Linked DNA regions of Homo sapiens. The protein of the gene in region 1 interacts with the protein of each later gene in a pairwise test. Each region holds a gene or a part of one and is shown in the gene's direction. Other genes may lie near its edges.

Evidence for each region.
Region 2: the proteins of FAM118A (region 1) and WDR4 interact in binary tests that used the Homo sapiens proteins (3 or more experiments, as listed by UniProt).
Region 3: the proteins of FAM118A (region 1) and DCDC2 interact in binary tests that used the Homo sapiens proteins (3 or more experiments, as listed by UniProt).

The regions. Positions count from the first base shown.
Region 1 is NC_000022.11:45,312,808-45,316,557, forward strand, and holds part of FAM118A (protein FAM118A), read left to right. Parts: intron 1-3,750.
Region 2 is NC_000021.9:42,865,880-42,869,629, reverse strand, and holds part of WDR4 (tRNA (guanine-N(7)-)-methyltransferase non-catalytic subunit WDR4), read left to right. Parts: intron 1-3,750. UniProt on the Homo sapiens protein: Non-catalytic component of the METTL1-WDR4 methyltransferase complex required for the formation of N(7)-methylguanine in a subset of RNA species, such as tRNAs, mRNAs and microRNAs (miRNAs).
Region 3 is NC_000006.12:24,351,345-24,355,094, reverse strand, and holds part of DCDC2 (doublecortin domain-containing protein 2), read left to right. Parts: intron 1-1,471; coding exon 1,472-1,526; intron 1,527-3,750. UniProt on the Homo sapiens protein: Protein that plays a role in the inhibition of canonical Wnt signaling pathway. May be involved in neuronal migration during development of the cerebral neocortex. Involved in the control of ciliogenesis and ciliary length.

The DNA.
Region 1 (3,750 bases):
CCCTCCCCGGGGTGTACCATTCTCCAGAAACTTCGGCATGTTTGTATTTATCTCTCAGGAAGCTCTCAGAACCCAGCCCTTTTATGCCTTTTATGGAGACGACTTAAGCATGTAGGCATGCTTAATTAAACCATTGGCCTTTGGTGATCAACGTAATCTTTAGCCCTCTCTTCCCCAGGTTAGTGGGTGGGGCTGAAAGTTCCAAGGATCTAATCCTGCCTTGGTCTTTCTGGTGATAAGCCCCCTTCTGAAGCTGCCCAGGGCCTATCTGCGTCAATCAGCTCATTAGCATACAAAATGACAGCACTTTGGAGATTCCAGGGATTCTAGGAGTAGTAAGACGGGAAACAGGATGAAGACCAAGTAGAGATTTCAACAAAATGCAAAGCTGTTGGAGGGGAGACAAGTTCAGATGTGTCAGAAATTTCCCTCTGGTGACTATGTGGGACTAGAGGACTAGAGGGGCTGGAACTGGAAGCAGGTGCCTTTCAGTGTCAGACATGTCGTGAGGGTTTTTTTTTTTTTTTTTTTTGAGATGGAGTTTTGCTCTTGTTGCCAGGGCTGGAGTGCAATGGTGCGATCTCGGCTCACTGCAACCTCTGCCTCCCAGATTCAAGCGATTCTCCTGCCTCAGCCTCCCAAGTAGCTGGGATTACAGGCGCCTGCCACCTTGCCCAGCTACTTTTTGTATTTTTAGTAGAGACGGGGTTTCACTATGTTGGCCAGGCTGGTCTTAAACTCCCAACCTCAGGTGATCCATTCGCCTCGGCCTCCCAAAGTGCTGGGATTACAGGTGTGAGCCACCACTCCCAGCCAAGTTGTGAGGGCTTTAAGACTGTGGCAGACGGTATGGATTAAACAGATTTAGGAAGAAAAATCTACAGGACTTGTTTGTTGAAGTCTGGGCTTAGGTGAGGGAGAGACAGACTCAGGGATAACTGCACAATGGAACTTCCTGTGGTAACCAAAATGTAATGACTGTTGTCCAGTACACACTGGCCGCTTGTGGCCGCCGAACACTGAAAATATGACTAATGTGACGCAGCTGTTTAATTTTATTTAGCTTTAATTTTAATTAAATCTAGGAAGGATTCCCTATCACACATCTAGGGTGTAGTAGGAAGCACACTGTTCCAGGCTTTGTTCTTTTATTCCATTTAATGCTTCCAGCAACCTTAGGAGGTATAAGATATTCTTTCCTTTGTAGAAAAAGTAAATAGGCTCAGGAATGAGTCCTTGCCCAGGTAGTAAGGAGTTCAGCCAGTACTGATTTGTTGGCCAGGCTGTTGCTGCTGTATCCTACCTCCTTCCCCCAAGGAGCCTGCAGCATCTCCTTGTCAGGAAAATGCCGTCCTCTTGAGTTGGTAGCATTGTTCCTCCATGTGGCCCTCCTTATCTGTTCCCACCCCGCCCCCCAAGCTAACATGGACAGTTGAATGATAAGCACACTGTGCAGGGGCTGGTCTTTTTCCTGGAGCTGCTCTGCCTGCCGCCTCTTCTATCTGCCTAATGGCAACTCTTTCAACATTTCCGGGGAAGGAGAAACTGTAGAAAACTAAACTGTGCCTTATTTGTAATGATTTGGTGGTAAAGAGGTAGAAATGAGTGCCTTAAAGTGTTGGGGTCACAGTGGACCAGACAATGCCCAGGCCGGTGGGAAGGGTATGGGACATGAGCCAGGAGTTACTTTATAGCTTGTTCCCAGCCCCGTGGGGGAAGTTGACAAAGTCACTGTCTCTTAGTCTCAATTTTCACTTCTGAAAAATTAGGGCATTTGGTTTCATGTAACCTTTAAGATCCTGCCCGCTCTGAAATTCTGTCATTTTACATTTTGTTGGAGGTTTACCTTCTAGAACATGTCTTACGTATCCTCTTGAGGTGGGGTAAAGGCAGGTGGGTCCACAAGCCCCTGGCCTCTGTCTTGGCGTGTTTTAACATTGGCTTGTTAAGTAACACGTTTATTTGAGTTAATGTGTCACATCTGGTGGACAAACTGTATGTAAAATGCTGAATGCTTTAGTGGATGGCAGAGTTCCCAGTAAAATATCAGGTATATTTGTTTGCCATTTCAAGCTGCACTGATGTTAGGAAGAAAGGCGCAAGAATATATAATACACAACTTGGGGCTGGCCTGTTAGAAGGGTTCACTATCGGCCTTGGCCAGGCTGTGGGTCATAGGAGTCGCCACCTCATCGGGTTATTGAGGTTAACTGAGATAGTGCGTGTAAAACGCTTAGCATTTTCCCTTGAATCTCTATTAAAGGCTGAAAAAGTGGCAGTAATTAATGTTGCTCTTTGAATTAATTTGTGACCAAATTAAACTAAATTTGAATTAGATTCTTTTTCTAGTGGTGGGTTTTGCTGTTTTCCTGGTTTGGGTGTATACGTCCAAGCAGCTCTGTTTGGTGGGACTGGTTTCAGGAATCCAATTAACTTATTTCCATCATTACAAAATAAGGCATTTTTCCCATTATAATTAAGTTCAACAGAATAAAAAGTAATTGGTTAAGTGGAGTGCGTTCAAATTAAGGGTTCATATTTTCTGTAAATTGAAGAAAATAACTCATCCTGAAGATCCCTTATTATTAGTAATGGCTGAGATTAAGTTTTACCAGAACCATGATTACACTGAAATGTAGTTGTGGTGACTGCCTTGGAAGAGTGGTGCTAGCGTGAGGCGGTTGAGAGTAACAGACACTGTACACTTTATTAAGTGCCTTTCAGATACGCGTCTCCCTTGAATGTCTGCAGCAGCCCCGTCGGTGATGTGCATGTTGGGATCCCCATTTGGGAGATGGAGAAACAGGTTTAGAGAGGTCTACCTGGCTGGGGGAAACAGGTTTAGAGAGGTCTACCTGGCTGGGGGAAATAGGTTTAGAGAGGTCTACCTGGCTGGGGGAAACAGGTTTAGAGAGGTCTACCTGGCTGGGGGAAACAGGTTTAGAGAGGTCTACCTGGCTGGGGAAAGGGTGGTGTTTCCTTGTCTCCAGATCCTGTGTTTTCTGCACCTTAGTCCTAATGCTGCTTCAGGTGGGGGTGTTGTGGTTTCAAGGCTAAGCCTCTCCTTTGCAGTTCCAGAAGCTTAATTTTTTGCCCATTTGTGCCTTGTTTCCAGTTCAGGTGACCCTAGTCATGCTAATCAAACTCACCAGAAACCTATCAGCTGGATCGCAGATGGTTCATTTGTGGTTAGAAATATGACTGTCACATGTGCTTGAAGACTGTTGCTCAGTGATTTGATTTGATTTTTGAGATGGAGTCTTGCTCTGTCACTCAGTGTGGAGTGCAGTGGCACGATCTCGGCTCACTGCAACCTCTGCCTCCCGGGTTCAAGCGATTCTCCTGTCTTAGCCTCCAGAGTAGCTGGGATTACAGGTGCGCACCACCATACCTGGCTTATTTTTGTATTTTTATTAGAGACACGGTTTCACCATGTTGGCCAGGCTGGTCTCGACCTCCTTACTTTAGGTGATCCGGCCGCCTCGGCCTCCCAAAGTGCTGGGATTACAGGTGTGAGCCTCCACATCCAGCCTTGCTCAGTGATTTCTGCCGCCACACTCTTCTCCTCTCCCAAGCCTACGTGGGAACCTGATGGCTGTGAAAAAGGAAGTTTGTGGGAATCACATCTAGAATGAAGGGAGAGGAGGATATTAATGAGCAGGGTCTGGCCGTTGAGCTTCCATAGCATGCAGTCATCTGTCTTGCTGAGGGTCATGCTGGGAAGGGCTTGCTTGAAGGCTCCCGGTCTTC
Region 2 (3,750 bases), on another chromosome or scaffold:
GTAGGAGCTCTTTATATTTGGACACTTTAGTTTTACAAAATAAGCCCATCTCCCAAAGTGTGGCTCTCAACATGGCCTTTCTCACACGGCCTTTCTGTGGCACAGGTGTGTAAGGTGAGCTGCACCGGTAACCACTGAGACTGGATTAGCATTTTCCAATACCCTTGCCTTAGCTGACAAAACTTCAAAGCCCTGGGGTCAAGAACAAGTGCAGAGCTGAGATCCACGTGCCGATGTGTACACGGATCTCAGACGTGATCCAGTTACTTAGACAACAGTGGAGTGTGTGGGTTCCCGTTCAGCTATGGTGAGTGGGGTTGTAGAAGTTGGGAGTGAATTCTCACTTGTCTGCTTCCCCTGGAGTACAGTTCGGTGTCCTCTCATGCTACCTTTTGCCTTTTTTATCCTTTGGTTTTGGTCCGTACAGAAAATTGGAAACCACTGAGAAGTACAAAATGAGAGCAAGAACAAAAACCACCCTGAATTTCACCACCCAGAGCCAGAGTATGGGATGAGCACTGGGGCCAGGCCCTCCTCCTCCTCTCTGCAGATGGATTACAGGATTTGCATGTGTTACACTGTAGTGGTGGCATGTGCTAGCCTATAGCCTGTTCCCCCCCGCCAGGGCAGTGTTGACAACACTGTGTCATTCCCTGTAGCTGAGTTGTTACATTGTTTGCACTGTTCCACTGCTCAAATGCTAGTGTTTCCTTGTACCTCTTCCTGCCTTTAAACTTCGGGAAGTTTGAGCCAGAGCAACTGGGACAGCAGAGGTGTGGACAGTGTGGGTTTACTGGCACCAATGTGTGACAACAGACACGGCGAAGCTTCCCAAGCCTTGGTGTCCAGCGGTTTCCTTGGGGTTGATCACATGCTGTGGGGGTGGCTGACTTTTAGTTCCCAGCCCCTCCAGAGGTGGAGTGGACACCTTGTGGCCCCAGGCCCCTGCCCTAAATCACGTACTTAGGCTGCCTGTGGGGCCCAAGGCCCCTACTCTTGGAGATGAGGCCAAAGGCAAGGTTAATTCTTCACTATGCAGAGGGTGTACCCTGTGCCAAGGCTTTTGATGTCTGGTACCAGACACCATTTGAGGAGTAGCCACTGCCTGCAGAGGGTAGGGGAGGCTGGGTCTGGCCGTGTGTGCCGTAGGCCTGGCTGGTGGTGGGGGTGAGCGGGCAGGGAGCTCACTCGTGTCTTGAAGACGCTGACTCTTTCAAGTCTGGACAGTGCTGCGGCTGTGAAGTTCTGAGGTTGCCAGAAAGATGGAGACGTGGGTGGAATGTCACCTTACTTCAATGTGAGCTTGCTGTCCAGAGGTAGTGTCTCACTTTGAACTTGGGAGAGAGGGGATGTCCAGTCTGCCTGCCCGCTGTGTCCTGGTTCCTAACAGTGGAGCTTCTTCACCCTGATGGAAGCGCGGAGGCCCAGGGCTCCTCCAGGGGTTCTGACTCCTCCAGAGGGACGGGGCCTCTGCTCCTGGCATCGTGCATGGCCCAGAGGAGGGAGGAATCTAGAATTCTCTCCACTCAATGTGGTTGCCTGTGGCAGTTGGCTTCTTGGAGGAGGTCATTTGAGGTTGAGAGCTCCATGAGTTGGGACTCGTGGTGGATGCAGATACCGCTGCAGGCTGGGCGGGTGGGGGGCCTCTTCATCCTTGGTTGTAGGTGCTTTGCCAAGAGGGAGATGTCTTGCTGTGTTGACTCGTCTTTTGAAGGTTGTGTGCTGGTGTGATTCTCTTTATGGAAGCACCTGGTAAAACTCTGGGAGGCTGGCATGGTGGCTCATGCCTGTAATCCCAGCATTTTGAGGGGCCAAGGTGAGAGGATCCCTTGAGGCCAGCAGTTCGAGGCCAGTCTGGCCTCAACATAGTGAGATCTCGTATCTACAAAGAAAAAAAAAAGCACAAGTCCAAGAGTGGGCAGTGCATCTAGTTTAAGTACCCCTAATCTGAAATTCACAATCCTCCAAAATCCGAAATTTTGTGAGCATAGGGAAGATGCTCAAAGGAAATGCTCACTGGAATGTTTCGGATTTTGGATTTTTAGGTTAGGGATGCTGAGCCAGTAAGTATTTGCAAATATTCCAAAACCTGAACAAATCTGAAGTGCAAAGCACTTTTCGTCCCGAGCATTTGGGATGAGGGATGGGCAGCCTGCAGCATGTGAGCAAAGAGCAGTGTTTGGCTCTTGGCAGTGCCCCTTTACCTGTGCGTTCACTTTTTTTTTTTTTTTTTTTTGGTGGAGCGGAGTGTCTCTTTGTCACCCAGGCTGGAGTGCAGTGGCACGGTCTTGGCTCACTGCAACCTCCACCTCCTGGGTTCAAGCGATTCTCCTGCCTCAGCCTCCTGAGTAGCTGGGATTATAGGAATGAGCCACCACGCCTGACTAATTTTTATATTTTTAGTAGAGATGGGGTTTTGCCATGTTGGCCAGGCTGGTCTTGAACTCCTGACCTCAGGTGATCTGCCCACCTTGGCTTCCCAAAGCTCTAGGATTAGAGGCGTGAGCCACTGCGCCCGGCCTGCTCTTGGTTTTGAAAGTGATGTCAGCAGTATAACTTCGTGTAGGAAATGTTTGCCTTAGGTGGTGTGGAAGATGGACCATGTGATTTGATGCAGTCCAGGCAGCAGATTACAAAATCCCGCCTCGATGGTGTGGCTTGGGGTTTCTCCTGACCTTGGTGTAGGGCACGCCTTGCTGCCTCCCCTTTCTCTAGTTGAACTGCAGGACAGTGGGTACAGTTGTGAAGTTACTGCCACTTTCAACATCTCTTGGCAAATTCCTCAATAATCTTTTTAAAATTCCTTTAGAATTGTGGGTTTGTGAACTTTTCAGCATCGGGTGGAGTGAAATTGTTACCCTTTCTCTCAGTGAGAAATTGGAGGGGATTATTGTGGCAGGAGGAGTAGGTTTGGGGGATGCGAGTGGGGCAGGGAGAGGGGCATAGGGTGAGTTTTATCAGGAGCTGCTTTCAAGGAGAGGACTAGGGTGAGTGGAACCATGCTGAGCTGGCAGGCAGCACCCTGTGGCTGGTCCGCAAACATGGGGGCTGCTCCCCACACCTGGAGGCTTTTTATGCCTCTTAGATCTCAGACTCTTAGATCTGATGCACCCGCTCCCCAGAAAACCGCCCACGCTTAGCACATCCACCTCCATTCAGTTTTAGAGGTTCCATGTACTCCTAGCCTCTCTGCATTTCACTGAGGCCCTGCACCGCTGCAGGATGCCCCTGAGCTGGGCGAGACCCTAGGCTCTGTCCCATGGTTGCTTTGTTACTGTGCTGCTGCTGGGAAGCTTCCTGTTGAAGGGTTTTGAGGCGTAGCCAAGATGGAAGTTGTGGGCAGCAACGATTCTTTCCCAGGTAGCAGTTTAGAACCGCAAGGGACGGAGGGCCTGCCACCTGGGCAGTCAGGAGACTCTTGGCCCGAGGGACTGAGGCCAGGTTTTCCAAGCCGAAGATGAGGACACAGGGTGACGAGTGATACATTGATTTTGACATGTGTGTTTATGAGGGAGAAATCCTCCCAGTGGAGTCTGTGTTTCCGAAAACAACTGTGAGAGCCACGGCAGCACGTGGGAAAGGCAGAGCCAGAGAACCATCTGATTCGCTCTGCCCAGGGGGTGGAGAGAGAGCACCTGGCTGCTGGAGTGTGGGTGTGGATGGTGCCTGGTGTCCTCAGTGCCCTGTTGGGGCTGCCCAGGCGGCTCTCTGGAGGGGGGCTTGGGGCAGTGCCAACTCAGTCTGGGAGTT
Region 3 (3,750 bases), on another chromosome or scaffold:
ATGATAGAAGCCAAGAATACTTGAATGTTGAATATATTTGAAACTTAGCACTTATAAGTTTATGTAAAGAATGGAGAAACTGTCAGAACAAAAGAAAGCCCAAACGATATTGAGGACAATTCGTGGGCTTTCATTTAGACCCTAAATGTTGGGAAAGACAGCAACATCTTTTTCAAATGGAACTGATCAAATCGCTGCTTGAATTGCTTTCACTTAGATTTTTCTAATATTTTTGAAACGATAACTAAACATCAGGTAGCTATTAAACCCTTATTTATTTCAAATGTGAGACCATACATTCACAACCTTTATTTTACAGCAGAGGATTCTAGAGAGTATTTCCCCCAAAACTTTCCCTGTGCATTGTTGGAAGTTGACTCTGCAGCATTAATCTTGTGGATCTGAAACCACTTTCCTGCACATGACAGAATATTTTGGTATTATTTCAAAACTCAGCCCCTGCAGGTCCACAAAAGACCCATTTTATTGCTAAGACGGAGTGTTTGCACTGTTTTAAAAATATGACTACTTTTATATAGGGGCATTGTATGACAATTTCCAGAGATATGAATTAACTAAAGTATTTTATCCAAAAAGGCAAACAGCAACAATAAAAACATTTCAATAGCCAAAATTAATTCTAACATAAGCTTTTTTTGGGACAAGTTGGCAATTGTAGTAGTTGGGGTAAAGGATTGATCTATCATTATAAATTATATGTTAGATTTATACTTTTTAATATTAAAATGTTTATTTAGCACATTTTATGTATGAAGCACAGTTTAGGGACCATTTAAAACTGGAACCACATCACAGTGATATTACACGTGAAGTTGACAAAGGTATACAGTTTTCAGGTTGTGCTTATGTAACAGCTAAAGAATGATCACTGTTAGTATCTAGAGCAAATAGTAATGGAATAATAGGGGTCTCCAGAGGTTAACTAGTCCACCCATCTGTTTCTTAGCTGAACCAATTACCAAAGTCATCCCACATGAGTGAGTGTTTTTGTATCATTAAGGTGCTCTCATAGAGACAATAATTTCTCAGCCTTTCCCAGTTGTTACCCTAATGCACGCTATCAGTACTTCCTTTGACCTAAAGCCTGTATTTAATGGAACAGTTAAGCAGCTTTGCACATAAGCCACTCTTTTAAAAAATCAAATCTGTAAGAATATAGTGTATATAGTAAGCAGCTAACTATTAAGAGGGAAAAATGTTCTCTAATAGATGTATGTATTTCTAAGACTTTCCTTCTCTTGAAGTTTAGGGTAGACATATGTCAGCTCTGGTTGGTGACACTGCAAACAGTTTTTACTATTGTAATTGCTTTTCATTAGTAGCTATTTGTTTTTGCTTTAAGGTTGAGAATTTCCTATGAGTTGCTTTATTTTTTTATGATTTTTAAAAATAAATTACTGACTTAAAGTCTATAAAAGCAACTCTTATTGTTTGTTTGTTTTTTCCTCAGTTACTTGGACATAGGAGAAATCAAGAAAAGACCAATGGAAGTTGTTAATACAGAGGTAATGCAAATATTATTTTGAAAATTCAAATAAATAACGGTGCCATTTGTTTCTTATGGTGTGTCTTAGAGATTTGGACGGCATTCTACTTTGATGAGTTCTCTAATGTAAAGAAATGGAACATTATATGTTTTAAGGCAAAGATAATTCTTTCTTTGAATCATTGTCAGAAATGAAAAGACTGAGTAGATGTTCTAAGATGTGCAGGATATGTCAAGATTAGACAAAACATATTTTTCTCTTTTCTAGCTACATGTTCTCTGATTGAAATCCATGGGAAGGTTCCCTGTCAAGTGAGAAGATTCTGAGCGTTGTTAAATAAATCTTTACCAAAGCTACATCCTCATCCTAATGTGCCTCTGATAACTCAGTGTTTGATGTAGCCAGGGTCACCCTAACTGCCCCTGAGGCTTTCAAAGGAGATGAGTAGATGTCACGTTGGACACTTTGTGATGTCAGGAAAACACCTGTGTTTTAGCTTCTATCGAAGTACGAGTTAAGCATAGTTCGTGAAAGCTTATGTGAAGGTTGGAAAAGGAGCTTGTGAAATATTCACAATACCGCATTCCACGTAGCTTCTGAAACCCTGGTGGAGTTTTAGGTATTCTGTAGGATGTATTCTTTAGTTTGTGAATGAAAAAATAGATTAAAAACAAAGTTGGGGCCACAGCCTGAGACAGGGAAAATTGTAGTTAGATCCAGAATAGGCCTCTGTTCACCAGCCCAGACAGCCACTCTTCCCATTCAGACCCCAAATAAACAAGTGCTTCCAATGGGTAAGTGCTGCCAATGAAGAAATGGCCAACAGGAAAAGTAGTTTTTCTCACTTGTAGTCCAGAGCCCCAGAGGGACTCTCCTCAACACTCACCATTTCCTCTCACATCATGTTTGTGCCTAATAGGACCAAATAGGCCCCTCTAGAAAAAATATTGCGTAAGAAAAAAATTCTAATTGTACAGTATTTGAAGAATATGAGGTTAAATTCATTATTCAAATAATCTGTAGAAAGAGGTACCCTTCCTAGACATCATTTAACATAATTAATATTTTGGCTTGTATTTTCAGTGCATCAAATTGATTAGTCATGAAAGTGATAGGCTTTGTAGCTTAAAGTAGACAAAGGTATACAATTTTCAGGTTGTGCTTATGATATAGCTAAAGAATGACCACCAGTTGATATCTGTCTCAAGTAGAGTAGTAATAAAGGGCAGTGTTGTGAATTTGTTCTGGATGTGATTCTGATGAAAGGATACACACCTGTTTAAAGTATACTACCTTGCATGAAATTGGTGAAGAAACCTGGACTTCCGCAATAGAATTTGAGATGTGTGAATTCCCAAAAAATGTGAGCACAGTATATTTACTCTGGATTCCAGTGTCTTTGCTGAAGACATTATCCCTAGTAAAAGACAACAGGTGTGCAATAGATTTATCGAATATACTTTTTTCTTAAAAATTTTTTTTTGAGACAGAGTCTCCTTCTGTCACCCAGGCTGGAGTGCGGTGGCTCGATCTCTGCTCACTGCAACCTCCACCTCCTGGGTTCAAGCGATTCTCCTGCCTCAGCCTCCTGAGTAGCTGGGATTACAGGCACGTGCCACCACACCTGGCTAATTTTTTTGTTTTTCGTAGAGACGGGGTTTCAGCATGTTGGTCAGGCTGGTCTTGAACTCCTGACCTCATGATCCGCCCGCCTTGGCCTCCCAAAGTGCTGGGATTACTGGCATGAGCCACCAAGCCCGGCCTTAAAATAGTATTTTTAATAACAGAAGCATTCACAGAAACTCCAGTTCATTTAATTTGCTTATTGTTCTTCCACTCTGGGGACAGTAACCATTGTTTCTCTTTATTTTGCACTTACACATGAGCCAACGTACAAGATCCTTATTTATGGATGCACACCTTACGTGTGAAAAACCTACCCCTTGTCTCCAAATGAAAGACTGCATCTCTTTCATCCTGCTTCCTACTGGTGACTCCCTCCCACTTACTCCTTTCCTCTTGCTGCCCTGCTGTGGCCTTTTATTTCTTCTCAGTCCTTACCCATAAACCCTTCTAAAGGAGATGGAAAGAGAGAAGTAGAAGAAATTGTGAAATGCAAAGGAGATGGGAAAAGGTGTTCAGAAACTGCTTGTCCATGCTCTTTCCCGCATCTTCCACTCACTCATGCCCAGCTTTCCCACTTGTTCGCTAGAGTCCTCTCTCCCACTCTGCCCTCCTGTCC